Homo sapiens: one gene and its partners. The protein of the gene in region 3 purifies or fractionates together with the protein of the main gene of each other region. This does not show direct contact. Each region holds a gene or a part of one and is shown on either strand. Other genes may lie near its edges.

Region 1 (4,567 bases), on a different chromosome or scaffold from region 3:
GACCTGTTTGTTGATTTTTTTTGTTTTTTCTTTCCTTTTTTATCCTCTAAGCCTCTGATCACTTATCATTGTCAAGGTTGAGCAGACAGAGAAGTGCATACATTCTGCAGCTTGAGTGCCTAACTTGAGATTCTGTTTCTGACATTTACTGTGGATTTGGGGCAATTAAATTAACTTTCTGTGTCAAGTGGGAGGATCACCCAAGCCCAGGAGTTTGAGGCTGTAGTAAGCTATGATAGCAGACTGCACTCCAACCTAGGTGACAGAGTGAGATCCTGTCTGTTTTTTGTTTTGTTTTGTTTTGTTTTTTTGACAGAGTCTCACTCTGTCGCCCAAGCTGGAGTGCAGTGGCTCCATCTCAGATCACTGCAAGCTCCGCCTCCCGGGTTCACGCCATTCTCCTGCCTCAGCCTCCCGAGTAGCTGGGAATACAGGTGCCCGCCACCACGCCCGGCTAGTTTTTTATATTTTTAGTAGAGACGGGGTTTCACCGTGTTAACCAGGATGGTCTTGATCTCCTGACCTCATAATCCACACGCCTTGGCCTCCCAAAGTGCTGGGATTACAGGCGTGAGCCACCGCATCCGGCCAATGCAATTGTTTTCTTAATTCCATTTTCTGCATGTTCTTTGCTAGTGCATAGACATACAATTTTTTTTTTTTTTTTTGAGACGGAGTTTTACTCTTGTTGCCCAGGCTGGAGTGCAATGGTGCAATCTCGGCTCACAGCAACCTCCATCTCCCAGGTTCAAGCGATTCTCCTGTCTCAGCCTCCCAGGTAGCTGGGATTACAGGCGCCCACCACAATGCCCAGCTAATTTTTTGTATTTTTAGTAGAGATGGGGTTTCACCATGTTGGCCAGGCTGGTCTTGAACTCCTGGCCTCAGGTGACCCACCCTCCTCGGCCTTACAAAATGCTGGGATTACGGGCGTGAGCCACTGCGCCTGGCCACAAATGTTTTTTATATTGATATTTTACAGCCCAAGGTTTTTAATAATTTACATACCTTTAGGCCAAGCATGTTCTCTCCAGTTTGATACAGAATCATCACCCCCCCATTATGACAACATTTATCTGCTCGGCCCCTGATGACATTTTCCTCAGGTCTCCTGCTGGTTGTTCCTGAGAGTTTTATCACCTATAGATTGTAAACAACCTAAGTTGGCTATAAATATTGTTGCTAGGCTGATGACATCAGGGAGGGCTGAAGACAGAGGGAATGGCAGTAAGGTATGAATGAGGAGGAATGAGTTCATGTTAACCCAAGGATAAAGAAGATCTTCGCTGTTGCCCAATAAAGAGAATCAGGGTTCAGTTGCAGAGGGCCCATATTCTTTCTTGCTCTTAGGGATGAATAAGAGGGAACCCCCACACGGAGACACTGCTGGAGAGAGTCGTACTGGGGAGGCAGCTGGAGCAGCAAGATGCTGTCGAGACCGAAGCCAGGGGAGTCCGAGGTGGACCTGCTGCACTTCCAGAGTCAGTTTCTCGCAGCTGGTGCAGCCCCAGCAGTGCAGTTGGTGAAGAAAGGAAATAGGGGCGGTGGTGATGCCAACTCAGACCGGCCTCCGCTCCAGGACCATCGGGATGTGGTGATGTTGGACAGTGAGTTCCCATGGATGTGAGGCTGAGAAGTAGAGAGGGTACAGCCTCGGGCCCCTCCCTCTTCCTGTTGTGGTTGGATTCAGACACATCATTATTATTTCAGACACTGCATAGCCTGTGTTTCTGCAGCCCCATTTTACAGAGGAAGAAAATGAGGCTCAAAGAGGTTAAATATCTTACCCAAGATGACACAGCTTGAGCCAGGGCCCCATGGCAGCTGTCTTTCTTCCCTAGCCTGCAGTGTCTTCCTAGGAAGGTGTGCATATACTCACGTTTGGGATCTTTTCTTTCTCAGATCTCCCAGATTTGCCCCCAGCTTTGGTCCCTTCTCCTCCAAAGAGAGCCAGGCCCAGCCCTGGCCACTGCCTGCCTGAGGATGAGGACCCAGAAGAGAGGCTGAGGAGGCATGATCAGCACATCACTGCTGTCTTGACTAAGATTATTGTGCGTCTCACTCTGGCTGAGTAGGATAAGATGTTCTAGGGCAACAGGGATATTGGATGCTCGGGGTGGGTGAGGCTTATCAGTGGAGGGTGCTTCAGAAAGGTAGACTTTTACCCCTGAGGTCAGGTTGGGGGCTGGGTTAGAATCACTGCCCTGAAGGGAGGAGGGTCCGTAACCCCCCAGAGTGAGGTTCTCATCGTTCAGAACTGGGCTAATAGGATCGGGTCCAGCCTGGGGAAGTTTCTCCATTGTGCTTCACAACTTTGTGCTTTGTTGCTACAGGAACGAGATACAAGTTCAGTGGCCGTGAATCTGCCTGTGCCCAGTGGTGTTGCTTTCCCTGCTGTGTTCCTTCGCTCGCGGGACACACAGGTAGGCAAGGGTAAGCTTAGGTGGTGCTCAGGAGACAGACAGGTGAGTCTCATAGTGCATCTTCTCCAGGCAGGTAGTTTTAATGATGATAAGCAATTTAATTTACAAAGCAGGATCATACTAAGCACTTCATACCCATTACTTCTTTTAATCTTCATAACAAACATATAAGGCAGGTATCATGATGATACCTTGGGGATGAGGAGTCCTTATTCCCATTTTTCATATGAGGAAACTGAGACCCCAAAGAGATAAATAACTTGTCCAACACCACACATCTAATAGGTAGAAGAGCCAGAACTTCAACCCAAGTCTGTCAGAGTCTAAGACCTTTACTCTTATAGACCTCTCCTTTTTCTGAGAACTAGGGTTGTGATCCCTGGAAATTGAGCAAATCCCCTTTTATCTCTTTGTTCCAGAGGCCTTGATATAAAGAGGTTGAGAGGAAAGTGGGATGATGAGCATCAGTAACCTGGGTTTTCTTTTTGCCCCACAGGGGAAATCAGCAACATCTGGTAAGAGAAGCATCTTTGCCCAGGAAATTGCGGCAAGGAGGATAGCTGAAGCCAAGGGCCCATCAGTTGGGGAAGTTGTGCCCAACGTGGGCCCACCAGAGGGTGAGCCGGGGTTGAAGAGGATTGGGCTTGGCCTTTTTAAAAGACACAATCATAGGGTCATTTTTGAAGATATGTCTTCCTGCCTCAAATGAGAGGTGCATTTGAGCCATCTCAAGTAGTCTGAGAATACTAGGTATGGGAGGCTTGGGTCCATATCTGGGTCTCAGGTGCTGGGAGTGGGGCAGGCCATTATGCAGTCCTAAGAGAAAGGGAATAGGGCAGAAGTGTCTGGCAGAGACTGTAAAATAAATGTGTTGGCCAAGATCCCTTTAATGATGCAAATTATTAGCTTAACAGCTGGGAGCAGGCCCCTGGCTATAGATGCCTGCCTAGATATCTAAGAGGAGTCAGAAATTAGGATGTTTCTGAGGAAAACCTTTTCATATAAGTACTAGGGAAGCAGTGAGTGGAGAAGCCACCTGGAGTCCCTGTGCCAGACCCAGTGGGGTCTCCACTCTGAGGAAAGTTTGGGTCTATACCTGTCTCCAGGGCTAATAGCCTTATAGAAGAAGGCCAAAAAGCCCAGTTAGAGCCCTGGAGGACAGAGCAATGAATGTGATCATACCTTTCTTCCAGGTGCCGTGACCTGTGAGACACCCACTCCTAGGAACCAGGGCTGCCAGCTTCCTGGGAGCAGCCACAGCTTTCAGGGACCCAATCTGGTCACAGGGAAGGGGCTCAGGGATCAAGAAGCTGAGCAGGAAGCCCAGACTATCCATGAAGAGAACATAGCAAGACTGCAGGCCATGGCTCCTGAGGAGATCCTGCAGGAACAGCAGCGGTTGCTGGCCCAGCTTGGTATGGGTGCCTGGCTTTCCTGCTGAGACCAGGCTAGGAGAGGAATACCACTTATTGAGCTAGGCTTACTGTGAGTTCCGGGCACTGTGCTGAGTACTTTAATGCTTTTTTTTTTTTTTTTTTTTTTTTTGAGATGGTCTTGCTCTGTCACCCAGGCTGGAATGCAGTGGCACGATCTCGGCTCACTGCAACCTCCACCTTCACGGCTCAAGCAATCCTCCCACTTCAGCCTCCTGTGTAGCTGGGATTATAGGCACACACCACCACACTCAGCTAATTTTTTTTTTTTTTTGGGGGGACAGAGTTTCACTCTTGTTGCCTAGGCTGGAATGCAATAGCACAATCTCGGCTCACCACAACCTCCGCCTCCCGGGTTCAAGAGATTCTCCTACCTCAGTCTCTCGAGTAGCTGGAATTACACGCATCTGCCACCACGCCCAGCTAATTTTTTTATTTTTAGTAGAGGTAGGGTTTCTCCATGTTGGTCAGGCTGGTCTCGAACTCCCAACCTCAGGTGATCTGCCCTCCTCGGCCTCCCAAAGTGCTAGGATTACAAGCATGAGCCACCATGCCCGGCCTTTTTTTTTTTTTGAGATGGAGTTTCGGTCTTGTTGCCCAGGTTAGAGTGCAATGGCGCGACGTAGGCTCACTGCAACCTCCGCCTCCTGGGTTCAAATGATTCTCCTGCCTCAGCCTCCTGAGTATCTGGGATTACAGGTGCCCACCACC
Region 2 (4,567 bases), on a different chromosome or scaffold from region 3:
TCCCTAAAGAAGGAAGAAAAGCCTCACCACTTCTTGGCCCAGGGCCTACTGCTTATTAGCAGAAACGTCATCCTCATTTTTTTTTTTTTTTTGAGATGGAGTCTCACTCTGTTGCCCAGGCTAGAGAGCAGTGGCATGACTTCAGCTCACTGTAACCTCTGCCTCCTAGGTTCAAGCAATTCTCCTGCCTCAGCCTCCCGAGTAGCCGGGATTACAGGCATCCACCACCATGACCAGCAATTTTTGTATTTTTAGTAGAGACGGAGTTTAACCATGTTGGCCAGGCTGGTCTCAAATTCTAACCTCAAGTGATCCACCTGCCTCGGCCTCTCAAATTGCTGGGACTACAGGCTTGAGCCACCTGGCCAATCCTCATCATTTCTATGATTATTAAATCATTGGGGATCTTCCTCCTGTGTCCAGGGGGAGAAACCAACACTCAAGGGTTGACTTGGAGAAAATTCCAGGGGGACATGCCCCAATCGTGTCCACACCTGACAGAGACTGTCCAGGGAAGGGAGAGCCCCAGAGGGCAGCGCTGGCTGGTGGAGGGGGAGGCACAGGGGAGAGAGGCTTTGGCTCAGGCAAAGAACACATTCTGCAGCTTGGAGGCATCCAGACCAGATGGACCTGGCTCCTGTGGGGAGGAAAAAGCCCCCCTTTCTTGGAGGAAAATCTTCTAGAGCTGCACCATCCAGTATCAGGGTTGCTGGCCACATGCAGCTACTGGGCACTGCAAATATGGCTGGTCCAAACCAAGAAGTGCTATGATATAAAACACACGCTAGACCCTTTTTTTTTTTTTTGACATAGTCTCGCTCTGTCGCCCAGACTAGAGTGCAGTGGCACGATTTCAGCTCACTGCAACCTCTGCCTTCTGGGTTCAAGTGATTCTCCTGCCTCAGCCTCCCGAGTAGACGGAATTACAAGCGTTAGCCACCATGCCCGCCTAATTTTTGTATTTTTAGTATAGCTGGGGTTTCATTATGTTGGCCAGGCTGGTCTCAAACTCCTGGCCTCAAGTGATCCACCTGCCTCAACCTCCCAAAGTGCTGGGATTACAGATGTGAGCCACCGTGCCCAGTCACACACACTAGATTCTGAAAACTGACACAAGGGGAAACAAAAATGTAAAATATCTCACTTTTTATACTGATCATATGTTGAAACGAGAATATGTTGAGCTCAATTAAACTATTATTGATATTAATCTCATGGTTTTTCTTTACCTTTTTATTTATTTATTTGTGAGACAGGGTCTCCTTTTGTTATCCAGGCTAGAGTGCAGTGGTGTGATCACTGCAGCCTCAACCTCCTGGGCTTGGGTGATCCTCCTACCTCAGGCTCCCGAGTAGCTGGGATTACAGGCATGTGCCACCATGCCTGGCTAATTTTTGTATTTTTATTAGGGGGGGTTTTGCCATGTTGCCCAGGCTGGTCTCGAACTCCTAGGCTCAAGCAATCCTCTAGCCTTGGCCTCCCAAAGTGCTGGGATTACAGGTGTGAGCCATCACGGCCCTGGCCTTACCTTTTTATTATTTTATTTATATTTCTTTTTGAGACAGGGTCTCGCTTTGTTGCTCAGGCTGAAGTGCAGTGGCCTGATCACAGTTCACTGCAGCCTTGACCTCCTGGACTCAAATGATCCTTCTACCTGAGCCTCCTGAGTCGGAGGACACTACAGGTTGCGCACCACCATATCTGGCTAATTTAAAAAAATTTTTTGGCTCACGCCTGTAATCCCAACACTTTGGGAGGCCAAGGCAGGTGGGTCCCCTGAGGTCGGGAGTTCGAGACCAGCCTGACCAACATGGAGAAACCCTATCTCTACTATAAATACAAAATTAGCTGGGCGTGGTGACACATGACTGTAATCCCAGCTACTTGGGAGGCTGAGGCAGAATTGCTTGAACCTGGGAGGTGGAGGCTGTGGCGAGCCAAGATCATGCCACTGTACTCCAGCCTGGGCAACAAGAGTGAAACTCTGTCTCAAAAAAAAATAAAATAAAATAGGCCAGGCGCGCTGGCTCATGCCTGTAATCCCAGTGCTTTGGGAGGCCAAGGCGGGTGGATCACGAGGTCAGGAGATCAAGACCATCCTGGCTAACACGGTGAAACCTGGTCTCTACTAAAAATACAAAAAAACCATTAGCCGGGCGTGGTGGCGGGCGCCTGTAGTCCCAGCTACTCAGGAGGCTGAGGCAGGAGAATGGCGTGAACCCGGGAGGCAGAGCTTGCAGTGAGCCGAGACTGCACCACTGCACTCCAGCCTGGGCAACAGAGCAAGACTTCATCTCAAAAAAAAATAATAATAAATAAATAAAATGAAATAAAATAAATAAAATAAAATAAAATTTTTTTTTGTAGAGATGAGGTCTCCCTATGTTGCCAGGGCTGGCCTCAAACTCCTGGGCTCAAGCGATCCTCTGACTTTGGCCTCCCAAAGTGCTGGGACTACAGGCATGAGCCACCGTGCCTGGCCTCTCTTTACCTTTTTACTCTTTAGTATTTTTCTATTGGAAAAATTTTAATGCCTTCTCTGGCTCACATCCTATCTCCATGGGACGGAGCTGCTCTAGAATACTGATTATTGGCCTCTTGGGGATAAAAGGGGCTTTTCTTTTCTTTTTTTTTTTTTTTTTTTGAGATGGAGTCTTGCTCTGTCGCCCAGGCTAGAGTACAGTGGCACGATCTCGGCTCACTGCAATCTCCGCCTCCGGGGTCCAAAAGATTCTCCCACCTCAGCTTCCCGAGTAACTGGGATTACAGGCATGTGCCACCATGCCCAGCTAAGTTTTGTATTTTTAGTAGAGACAGGGTTTCACCATGTTGGCCAGGCTGGTCTCGAAGTCCTGACCTCAAGTGATCTGCTTGCCTTGGCTTCCCAAAGTGCTGGGTTTCCAGGCATGAGCCACCACAACCAGCCAAAAGGGGGCTTTTCTGAACTCACACTCTCCTTCACCCTGGAGTTTGTGGGTGGCTCACTCCAAGTCCTTCTATGTCCCTGCTTTGAGGGTCCCAGCTCCAAGGCTGGGGAGGGAGGCCTGGATGATCCTAGTATGCTTTTCAGGTTCACTGTCTGCAGGTTCTATTTTACAGACCAGACTGACTGTGAATAAACCTCACCACACAGTGACATGGATCACACTCACCAAAGACAAAACTGCAGAAAATACTGGCATCGATTTGGGTCAACGGGATGATTAGGTGATCGTCAAACGGGGTACAAGAATAGGGTGAAGAGCCACCCACCTGGGTCACCTTCAGAGCGACCTCTGAAACATCGGGCATTTTAGCCCAGACCCCTGACGTATCCCCCTGCAGGGAAACATCTGTGAGACCAACCCTGTAGGTCACACCCCCTCAAGCCACTTCTGCCTGGTTCTCCAAAGATCTCACCACATGGACGTCAGCCGGGTGGGACATACCAACGCAGCACATTCTTCAGACACACTCACTCAGAAAGGGGCTCAAGTAACTCCAGAAGACCTTTCCAAGTCATTTCTAGGGACCCACATAGAGTCAACTTTTCATTTCATCCAGTATAGGTGATAAAAAAAAATTACCATCCTTTAGGATATTTTTGTACTAAAAGAAGTAGGTAAGACCTAACTCATACAAATAGAATTCTGTCTGTTGCTGCGCCACCCAAAACCAGCCAGATGGATCTTAACCAAATCCACAGGGAATGTCTGGAATAGTCCTCAATAAAGTGAAAGCTAGGTGGAGTACACAGAACTCCCGTTAGAAGAATGGGGGGCTTTCTGAGGAAGCCATTCTCCAGCTCCGCTCAAACAGGTACAGCAAGAGATTTCTACGGCTGCCCATCAGGAGACAGAGGACTCAGGGAAAAAGCTCACAGAGAACCAAGCAAGGCTGGGTGTGGCAGCTCACACCTGTAATCCCAGCACTTTGGGAGGCCGAGGCAGACGATCACTTGAGGTCAGGAGTTTGAGACCAGCCTGGCCAACATGGCGAAACCCCGTCTCTACTAAAAATACAAAAACTAGCCGGGCGTAGTGGCGTGTGCCTGTAGTCCCAGCTATTTTGGAGGCTAAGGTGGGAGAATCGCTTGAACTTGGGAGGTGGAAATTGTGGTGAGCTGAGATAGTCCACTGCACTCCAGCCTGGGCGACATAGTGAGACCCTGTCTCAAAAAAAAAAAAAAAAAGAGCCAGGCAAGCAGAAAGATGACAACAATTATTAACTTCTCGAAAACAAGAGGACGGACAATGCTATGGTTTGAATGTTTGTCCTGGCCAAAACTCATGCTGATTCTCCCACCTCAGCCTCCCAAGTAGCTGGGACTACTGATGTACTCTAGTACTCCCCACTCCCAGTGAAACTTAATCCCCAATGTGCCAGTACTGAGAGATGAGGCTTTTAAGAGGTGACTGGGTCATGAGGACCCTCCCCTCAGGAACTGATTAACCCATTCATGGATTAGTGGTTTAATGGATTAATGAGTTATCATGGGAGTAGAAGTGGTAGTCTTATTTTTTATTACTATTGTTTTTTCAGAGACGTGGACTTGCTCTGTCGCCCAGGCTGGAAAGCTGTAGTGCAA
Region 3 (4,984 bases):
AGAAAAGAAGTCAGGACCCGGGGACACAGCTTTTGAAGGGAAAATCATCCTTGTCCTTTTCACCTGATGATGTGTCAGTGAGGAAGGAAGTGGGGAAGACCCTGCAGGTACTGGACAGCCAGCCCCAAGTTTGAGGTGTCATTTCATCCCAACGTCTTCAAACTGGAGTACAAGACAGCCCAGTGCCTTTTACAGTGCTGGCTCAGATCAGCTGAACTGTGGAGAATTCCTGGTGAGCTGCTTTTTTTCTGAAGCATTCAGACCTATTCCTTGAAGAGATTTGCAGCTGACTCCCAGGATGTTCTGGGAGTTACTGGGCGTGGCACAGATTGCTGTTTCAGTGAAGTTCAGAGTGTCCTGTTTTTCATTTCTTGAGAAATAATAATGTTTTATGCTTACCAAACCAACCGCAGCTCAATACATCAGAATTGGTTCATTTTAGGCTGGGCATGGTGGCTCACGCCTGTAATCCCAGAGCTTTGGTAGGCCGAGGTGCGCGGATCACTTGAGGTTAGCAGTTTGAGACCAACCTGGCCAACATGGTGAAACCCCGTCTCTACCAAAAATACAAAAATTAGCAGGGCGTAGTGACACATGCCTGTAGTTCCAGCTATTCAGGAGGCTGAGGCAGGAGAATCTCTTGAACCTGGGAGGTGGAGGTTGCAGTGAGCCAAGATTGTGCCACTGCACTCCAGCCTGGGCAACAGAGTGAGGCTCCATCTCAAAAAAGAAAAAAGAAAAAAGAATTGGTTCATTCTCTTTTTATTTTGATTGACCTTATATTGTACTGCCTTTGGTGTCCAAGGCTCTGGTGGCCTAGCAGTCTCATAGCAGCTGATCAGTGACTAACAGAATTCAATCAGGATCAGGGTGGGGTTGGGATGGTAGGAGGGGGATCAGAGCTCCTGCCAAGGCCTCCTCAGTACTTACCTGTCTTAATACGACTAACCCCCGTGAATCCACGTAGTGTACCATGGAGAAATCCAGGATGATGGTGTGGACACTGGGCAGTAGAGACGCATCTGAGTAAGGGATGAGTGATCTCCTCCCCTGGCTTTCCGCCACATCAGGCAGTCCTGGTGAGCTGTTTCTTGATGAGTTATTAGGAAGCCAAACTTCCTCCACCTCCTCATACTGTTGCCCTTGATTTTTCTGAGACACGGACGATACTGTGTATGGCACTTGGTCTTCGGATGCAGTTTGGCTTGTGTTCATGCTCTCAAAATGTGAGCAGTGAATCAGGTTAATGGAGGATGCTTCGGGATCCAGTTTATTTTCAAATCGCTCTGTGTAAAGAATCTGGGACGACAGAGTTAAGGGAGGGCTGTGGTAAGACACCAACAAGGGCCGGAAGGACTTGCAACGATGCTATTTCTTGTCTCTGCCAGCTCATGTCCCTCTCTCATGAAACTTCTCCCGAGAGTAGGTACTGTGCATTTTTTACTTGGATATCTGTCACTTCAAGCTCACAACTGAAGCCCCCACAGTCATCTTTCCTCATCTTCACCACCCACGACACCCCCCTCCCAACTTCTGATGTTCATCACTGTCCCAGTGAGCCAGACTTAAAACATCTTTTACTCCTTTTCCTCATGCTTGGGTCCTAGTTAGTCTCCAGTGCCTACTAATACTTTGTGTGAAGTATTTTTTTCCCATCAGTCCCTTGTCTCAGCACCCTCTTCCTTCATCAGTGCAACAGTCTCCTTTCAGACTTCCTTAAGACAAAAAGCACTTGAAGGCTGGGTGCAGTGGCTCATGCCTATAATTCTAGCACTTTGGAAGGTCAAAGCAGGTGGATCCCTTGAGCTCAGCAGTTTGAAACCAGCCTGGGCAACATGGCAAAAATCTGTCTCTACAAAAAATACAAAACAATAAAAAATAAATAAGAATAAAAATAGCTGGGCGTGTCAGTGAGCCTGTAGCCCCACCTACTGGGGAGGCTGAGGTGGGAGGATTGCTTGAGCCTGGGAGATGAAGGTTGCAGTGAGCCAAGATTGCACCAGTGCACACTCCAGCCTGGGTGACACAGTGAGACCCTGTCGTGCCCCCCTGCCCCCTCCCCAAAAAAAGCTGGCACACGCCTATTGTCCCAGGTACTCAGGAGGCTGAGGTGAGAGGATCGCTTGAAGCTGGGAGGTTGAGGCTGCAGTGAGCTGTGACCACACCACCACACTCCAGATTGAGCAACAGAGCAAGACCTTATGTCCAAAAAAAAAAAAAAAAAAAAAATTACATGAGCAAGGCTGTCTTTACCACTGCTGTCAACCTCCTAAAGGCCCAGACTGCCTGCTATAGCTTAAGGACAGTAACAAGGACCAGGAACACAATGATGTGCAGGATGCAAATGTGGACTCTGCATTTACAGGAACCAGACTCTACCTGGCAGTGTGCACACGTTCATTGAAGGGATAAGTAAGGCCAGGCATGGTGGCTCACACCTGTAATCCCAGAACTTTGGGAGGCTGAGGTGGGTGGATCATCTGAGGTCAGGAGTTCGAGACCAGCCTGACCAACATGGCGAAATTCCATCTCTACTAAAAATACAAAGTTAGCCAGGTGTGGTGGTGCATGCCTGTAATCCCAGCTACTTAGGAGGCTGAGGCAGGAGAATCGCTTGAACCCAGAAGGCAGAAGTTGCAGGGAGTTGAAATTGTGCCATTGCACTCCAGCCTGGGCAATAAGAGCAAAACTCCATCTCAAAAGAAAAAAAAAAAAACAAAAGCTGGGGGTGTGCCTCACGCCTGTAATCCTAGCACTGTGGGAGGCCGAGACAGGCAGATCACCTGAGGTTGGGAGTTCAAGACCAGCCTGACCAACATGGAGAAACCACGTCTCTACTAAAAATACAAAATTAGCCAGACAGGGTGGTAAATGCCTGTAATCTCAGCTACTCGGGAGGCTGAGGCAGGAAAATTGCTTGAACCCAGGAAGCAGAGTTTGTGGTGAGCCAAGGTCGCACCATCCCACTCCAGCCCCGGTAACAAGAGTGAAACTCCGTCTCAAAATAAAAAGGATAAGTAAGAATATATATGGATGAGAACTATAAAGCACAAGGAATAATGAGAAGAATTCCTTTGCTAGAGTGGTGTAATTCTGGGTGATGTTTCTATTTTTTTTTTTAATGTTATTCTAACAATGTTGCTTGTGAAATAAATTTTAAAAATTTAAAGCTAAAAACAATATGAGGTAGTATATATTGTATAGCAGAAAAGAAAAGAAAAGTGGTGTGGATAGATGATAATGCTGCAGTTTGCAGTTCAAAGGAGAGAGCTGTTCCCAAGGCTTGAGGTCACTGGGGCCAGGCATTTGGGGAACAGGCCAGGGTTGGCTCAGTGGCAGGGAGATGTGAGCTCCTCTAGGCAGAGGGAATTCTCTGAGAGCCACCTTTTTTTTTTTTTTTTTGAGATGGAGTTTTGCTCTTGTTGCCCAGGCTAGAGTGCAGTGGCACAGATTCTGGCTCACTGAACTTCCGCCTCCTGGGTTCAAGCGATTCTCCTGCCTCAGCCTCCCGAGTAGCTGGGATTACAGGCATGAGCCACTATGCTGGGCTAATTTTGTATTTTTAGTAGAGACAGGGTTTCACCATGTTGGCCAGGCTAGTTTCGAACTCCTGACCCCAGGTGATCCGCCTGCCTCGGCCTCCCAAAGTTTTGGGATTACGGGCGTAAGCCACTGCGCCTGGCCATCCGAGATCCTTCTTTTCTCTCCTCCATCTACTCTACGTTCTTATCTTTCTTACAATCCCCTCATGTGTTATCTGCCTGACCTTACTTCCCAGGCTAAGCCTCTATCCTAAGAGCCCCACGTTTATTTCTACCTTGGTGTCTTTGTCGAAGCCTGTCCATGGACTGGGAATCCTCTTTTTTCCTACCCAACTTCAATCTAAAATTCTCTCATAAATTTCCCAGCACAGGCTGATGCTACCACAAAGTTTTTCTGACTTTTGAGCTCATGCCAATCTCCCCTTACTTGATGTCTTAAGAGCTGTTAGAATCTAGCTGGGTGTGGTGGCTCACGCCTGTAATCCCAGCACTTTGGGAGGCTAAGGCAGGTGGATCACCTGAGGTCTTGAGTTCGAGACCAGCCTGACCAATATGGTGAAACCCCGATCTCTACTAAAAATACAAAATTAGCCAGGCATGGTGGCATGTACCTGTAATCCCAGCTACTTGGGGCTGTTAGAATCTAAACATACAATTTAAAAGACAGCTATATGCTATATTGCATGATTCACTATGCTATTTTGTCAATCTTAAGATATACCACTATTATGAAAGAAAAAAACAAGCCAGGTATGGTGCTCACCCCTGTAATCCCAGCACTTTGGGAGACTGAGGCAGGTGGATTGCCTGAGGTCAGGAGTTCGAGACTAGCCTGGCCAACATGGTGAAACCCCTTCTCAGTAGCTCAGTGGAACCTATGCTCCATTAGAATGTATGGGAACAAGAGTGGATGCTCAGGGTTTTGCAAGCACCTGCATGGCGGGTGGAGGCATTTGTGTGTGTGTGTTGCGGGGGAGGATGTAAATCTTTGTGTATAGAGAGAGCTGCCCCTCCAGAGTGAGTGCTGTAGACTAGGTGATTGCCGAAAGACCCAAAAGCTAGAAATGAGCAATCCTGCTCTGGGGGAAGGGACTACTTAGATCAAGTCCAGTTTGGAAATAATGAACACTTTGTAATTCTCATCAGTAAAAATAACCTCCAAATGCTGTAAAATTCCCATCTGAAATAGCGGCCTGTGCTCATCCTCCCCGCTCCTTTCCCCCATCTCCCATCATCATTTTCTTGGCCATAGGAAGACATCAGGAGACCCTGGCAGATCCTTGAGAAGCCCAGCAACCTTGACCTTGCCCTAGTTGGAATCAGAAAACAATCTTTAAGTCACTTATTTTCAGAAATCTAAAGCTTGGCCGCTAAGAGCCAGGGAAATAGGTGCAACTACAGAATTACAGTCTCAACAGGCAAACTGTTCTCTGGTCACTGTT
Region 4 (4,567 bases), on a different chromosome or scaffold from region 3:
TAAATTATTAGCCAGTTGATAATAAAATAAAAATGCTGGAGTTCAGTTCTCCTAAACTGATCACTTTATAGTAATGCTTCGCAAAAGTCTTATTTTCAAAAATATACCATGCTTCACTTTGATTTCATGGAGTTCAGCATTCATTCTTTCAGGGTATAGTCCAAGCATGGGGAAAAGTTTAGAATTACGCCATGAAATTACTCAAAGCCAGCTACAATATTTGTCTCTTATGCATTCCTCAGAGCATAGCTATTTATTCAGTGTCACCCAACTGGTGATTATGTGTTGACGAGCAATCTAAGAGGACCCTGAAGTCTAAACTGATCCCTATTAGAGGTGCCACCTGGAAATGTTTCTCTCCTTCTATTTTTTAAACCAATAACACCTTCAAATAAGTAATATTAATATAATAAACACTTAACTAGCCATCAGATTCCATCAGCTTCTGTTCTAGTAGTATTTCAAAAGCCTTGTAAAACATTCTTTGTTAGCCTCCCTATGCCAGAGAAAGGCAGGTCAGAAAAATATTACTTCTTTATTGAGAGGAAATTGGAACACAGGTTAAGTGACTCATCTTTAACAAAAGAATATGTGGAGTCAGTTTCAGTGCCTGACTCCTTAGTAAGGCTGCCCCAAAGAAGTATGCTACGACAATTTCTTAACAATATATGACTCAAGTTCCTTTTAATCAAGAAAAATGTGCTTCAGTATCTAGGTTTCTGAGGTGTTCTCAAAAAACAACATAAAAAGATAACACACAAGAGTTCATTAACAATTCTCAAATATTCTGGTCTCACCCTTAAAAATCACTGAGTATACTAAAGAGCTTCATTTATGTTTTATCTACCAATATGTACTCTATTAACAATTAAAACTGAAAAAAAATTAAAAATTCATTTAAAAATAAAAATTACATGCTAATATAAATAACATTTTTAATCAAAAATAACTATTTTAAAAATACAGTGAGAAGAGGAACATACACATATATCTCTTTACTGCCTGCCTTAAGGGAAGACAGATAAATTCTCGTTTCTGTTCTGCATTCAATCTGTTGCAGTATCACCTTCATTAGTCTCTGGAAAACTCCACTATACACTCGTGAGAGAATGAGAATGAAAATGACATATGAAAAGAGTTCTGACCTCATGGACAGAGCCCTTAAAAGGGCTTCAAGGATCCTAGACCACATCTTAAGAATCACTGAAATAAAAACTATGAATGAATATGCATAGTATCATTCTATCCAAAGATATTTTAAGATTTCCTTACATCAAGCCTTAAATTCCATTGTCTCTTCCCCTCCACTCTCTCAATCAGTGGCTCCCAGACAGCATGGATCTCATTGTAATAGTGCACCTGGAAAGATACACACAAAATTATAAGACAGTCCTTTGGCTTTAATTACATATTTCTGTAACCAATAGGGAAATTATTAAGTAATCAATGTTATATATCATTAGCCATTTTCAAAACCCATCTAACAATATATAGAGTGTATTTTCCTTTACTCTCTTACTCTATTGTCATAAATTATTTAGCAAATCAATCTTTAAAAAATAATTATCAAAAAACAATACATCGACAAATTAAATGTCAGAACACACTATCTATTCACATATGTACTCATAGTGGCCATGCACAAACAAGAAAAGTGTATATCTTAATTCCAAAATCGCACTTTCAAGAAGTCTCTGAAGGTATTAAGTGATGTGGCCATACCTGTAGTGTCACGTCAGCAACAGCAGCCATTAGAGAAGTCCAATTTTTAATATTTCCTGAAAACTTAGACTCTGCCAATAATAAAGGTACAGTTCGATGTCCAAGGCCACATTCTAAGGTAACTTGAATGGATTCTACAACAACACCACAATTTTCCTCTATCAGTGAATGTTCAATGCCTTTGAAGCTTTCCGTTATTTCTGTTGCCGTGTCAACACCAAGAAACCAAGTGTTATAATCATTAATCGATTTGATACCCCAAAGATTTTCCATTTCCTTAGACGTATCTTTGGATCCATCTTCTTTTGTTTTTGGAGACAATGCAGCCATGATTGTCAACACAGTATTAAGAATTATGGGTGAAATCTTTAAAAAAGAAAGCAGAAAAATATTTATAATAAATTCTTTCCCAGATGAGAATATATACATACATGATTTTAAGTGACATACATTAATTATAAGTGACATTTTTAAATTAAATTTTAATTTTAAATTAAAGTAACTAATTTAAATTTTGAATAAATTCGTAACCAAGAAAAACAAGAGAGAACACAAAATTATGTGTCAAGCCAAGTAATCATGCAACACTGACTTCTACTCAGGTTATCTGGAATTAAATAACTAATGTTATATGTCAGTAGTCAAAATCTAAAGTTAAGCTGATCAATTCAGAGCAAAACAGTGTTATGTGAATAGACAAGTATAGCAATGTAAACAAATTCTTCATTTTAAAAACAGCTACATTAACTAAGCCAAAGTGTGTGATCCTTGTCAAGATACACATAAATATCGGTATGCAACAAGATCTTCTGAAAAAAAAAAAAAGGAAGAAAAAGATATACATTTGCCTTATTAAAGCTGGAAGACTCAAAATCACAGCTCTCCTTTGACTTACCCCAAGATCTATAAATCCTACCTCTTATTATCTTTGGACAGTGCCTTTCTTTGCTCACTTCCCTCACTTCCTATTACTGTGCCTTAGTTCTACACTGATGACATCTTCTACGGCCAACGCCCTCTCAGCCTACACTCCACACTGCCACCAGCATAATTTTTCTACAAACCAAATCTGAGTATGACATTCTTATGTTTAAAATCTTCATCAACTTCCCATAATTTTTTTATCCCACAAGATAAAATTGAAACTCTCTTTAACTTAATGTGCAGAGCTCTTTGTGGCCTAGTGCCTATTCAACCAGCTAGCCAGGATTCTCCCAAAGTTTGAGAAATACTAGGTTAAATAAGTTAACTGTATTCCTTTATTGTTCACTTCTCACAATCCTTACTTAAAATGTAAAGGGATATAATTATATCATCAAAAGCAGGATCTAGTATGTATTGTTTTCCTAACTTACTTGTCAACTTTTTTTCCGTGTCTTATTAATGTCACTTATAATTAATGCTTCCAGTCTTACAACGCCACCACACCATTCTCTCCAGCCATATGTGACCACCCCTCTAAATCTTTTTTTTTTTTTTTTTTTTTTGAGACGGAGTCTCGCTCTGTCGCCCAGGCTGGAGTGCAGTGGCGGGATCTCGGCTCACTGCAAGCTCCGCCTCCCGGGTTCACGCCATTCTCCTGCCTCAGCCTCCCAAGTAGCTGGGACTACAGGCGCCCGCCACTACGCCCGGCTAATTTTTTGTATTTTTTAGTAGAGACGGGGTTTCACCGTTTTAGCCGGGATGGTCTCGATCTCCTGACCTCGTGATCCGCCCGCCTCGGCCTCCCAAAGTGCTGGGATTACAGGCGTGAGGCCACCGCGCCCGGCCACCCCTCTAAATCTTAAAGGATTTTTTCACACCTCTGCCTTTGTGCATATTATCAGTTCTGTCTGGATAAACCTTTCCATGCTCCCCATCTATTTAATCTCCCTTCAAAACTCAAATCAAATAGTCCTGCTTCTACACAGCTTTCCCTGATGTCCTGGTCTGAATTAAAGGCCCCATGCCTGTGCTCCCAACTGCATCTTGGCCATGCCTCTAGCACTGAAAGCTGTAATCACTGATTTCTTTCTTTCTCCCGCATATGTCATTAAGTTTTTTGACAGCAGGGGCTACATATCCCCAATGCCTTGTAAAGGACATTTTTTTAATACACAGTAAAAGCTCAAAAACGTTTTTTGAATCAATCATAAATTTATACACAAAGAATGTAAAGTCTCACCAGCACCTAACCTAGTGCTTTAAAATATGCAAATTCGAGGAGTTTTTCCCTCATTTACTACTTTATATATTTTTAAAAGTAAATCCATTAACAATATACATTCTAAGACTATCCAGTATTTTAAAATATTGAGAAAAAACTAAATTGATATTTACATGGTACTTCAAATGAAATGAGTTTGAGCCTTAGTTCAATCACTGTTGGTCACGGACCTATATAAGTAAAGCTACTACCATTATTGGCATTAACCAATTAACCAAAAAAGGACTCATTTTTGTATCCTTTGTGCAAACAGAGAAATAGATTGCAGAAAGTATTCTATATCTTCTATTCGTGACTGGGCACGAGGTATACTTAAAGAACCTGAACGCCATTGGAAAACAATAATTGTTTTTCAATGCTTTAAATGTAGTGAATAAAACAGTAAACTCCAATAATTATTTCTAGTGTACATCTGTCATTATAAATATTTGAAGCCAAATCATATAGTTATTAAATTCAATCAACTTATACATCAAATAAAAGCCTAAAAAGAACTTATTACAAATAAAGTAATAACAACCTCTTCTCTCCATCCCTTCTTCCCTTCTCTTCCCACCCCATATCTCTTCCCTCCTCCAACTCAACCCCCACAACACACGCATGCAAATAGAATAGAGAAAAACTACCCTGATCATTTGT

What was found. Proteins that work in one complex are often made in the same cells at the same time.
Region 1: the proteins of SLC26A8 (region 3) and RPAP1 purify together in Homo sapiens (affinity purification with mass spectrometry; one large-scale study listed by BioGRID and IntAct). This does not show direct contact.
Region 2: the proteins of SLC26A8 (region 3) and CLPTM1 purify together in Homo sapiens (affinity purification with mass spectrometry; one large-scale study listed by BioGRID and IntAct). This does not show direct contact.
Region 4: the proteins of SLC26A8 (region 3) and VPS13C purify together in Homo sapiens (affinity purification with mass spectrometry; one large-scale study listed by BioGRID and IntAct). This does not show direct contact.

The regions. Positions count from the first base shown.
Region 1 is NC_000015.10:41,533,985-41,538,551, reverse strand, and holds part of RPAP1 (RNA polymerase II-associated protein 1), read left to right. Parts: intron 1-1,350; 5' UTR 1,351-1,426; coding exon 1,427-1,607; intron 1,608-1,902; coding exon 1,903-2,051; intron 2,052-2,333; coding exon 2,334-2,423; intron 2,424-2,919; coding exon 2,920-3,040; intron 3,041-3,616; coding exon 3,617-3,838; intron 3,839-4,567. UniProt on the Homo sapiens protein: Forms an interface between the RNA polymerase II enzyme and chaperone/scaffolding protein, suggesting that it is required to connect RNA polymerase II to regulators of protein complex formation.
Region 2 is NC_000019.10:44,978,586-44,983,152, reverse strand, and holds part of CLPTM1 (putative lipid scramblase CLPTM1), read right to left. Parts: intron 1-4,567. UniProt on the Homo sapiens protein: Involved in GABAergic but not glutamatergic transmission. Binds and traps GABAA receptors in the endoplasmic reticulum (ER).
Region 3 is NC_000006.12:35,954,222-35,959,205, forward strand, and holds part of SLC26A8 (testis anion transporter 1), read right to left. Parts: intron 1,300-4,984; coding exon 931-1,299; intron 1-930. UniProt on the Homo sapiens protein: Antiporter that mediates the exchange of sulfate and oxalate against chloride ions across a membrane. Stimulates anion transport activity of CFTR.
Region 4 is NC_000015.10:61,920,675-61,925,241, forward strand, and holds part of VPS13C (intermembrane lipid transfer protein VPS13C), read right to left. Parts: intron 2,089-4,567; coding exon 1,723-2,088; intron 1,360-1,722; coding exon 1,273-1,359; intron 1-1,272. UniProt on the Homo sapiens protein: Mediates the transfer of lipids between membranes at organelle contact sites. Necessary for proper mitochondrial function and maintenance of mitochondrial transmembrane potential.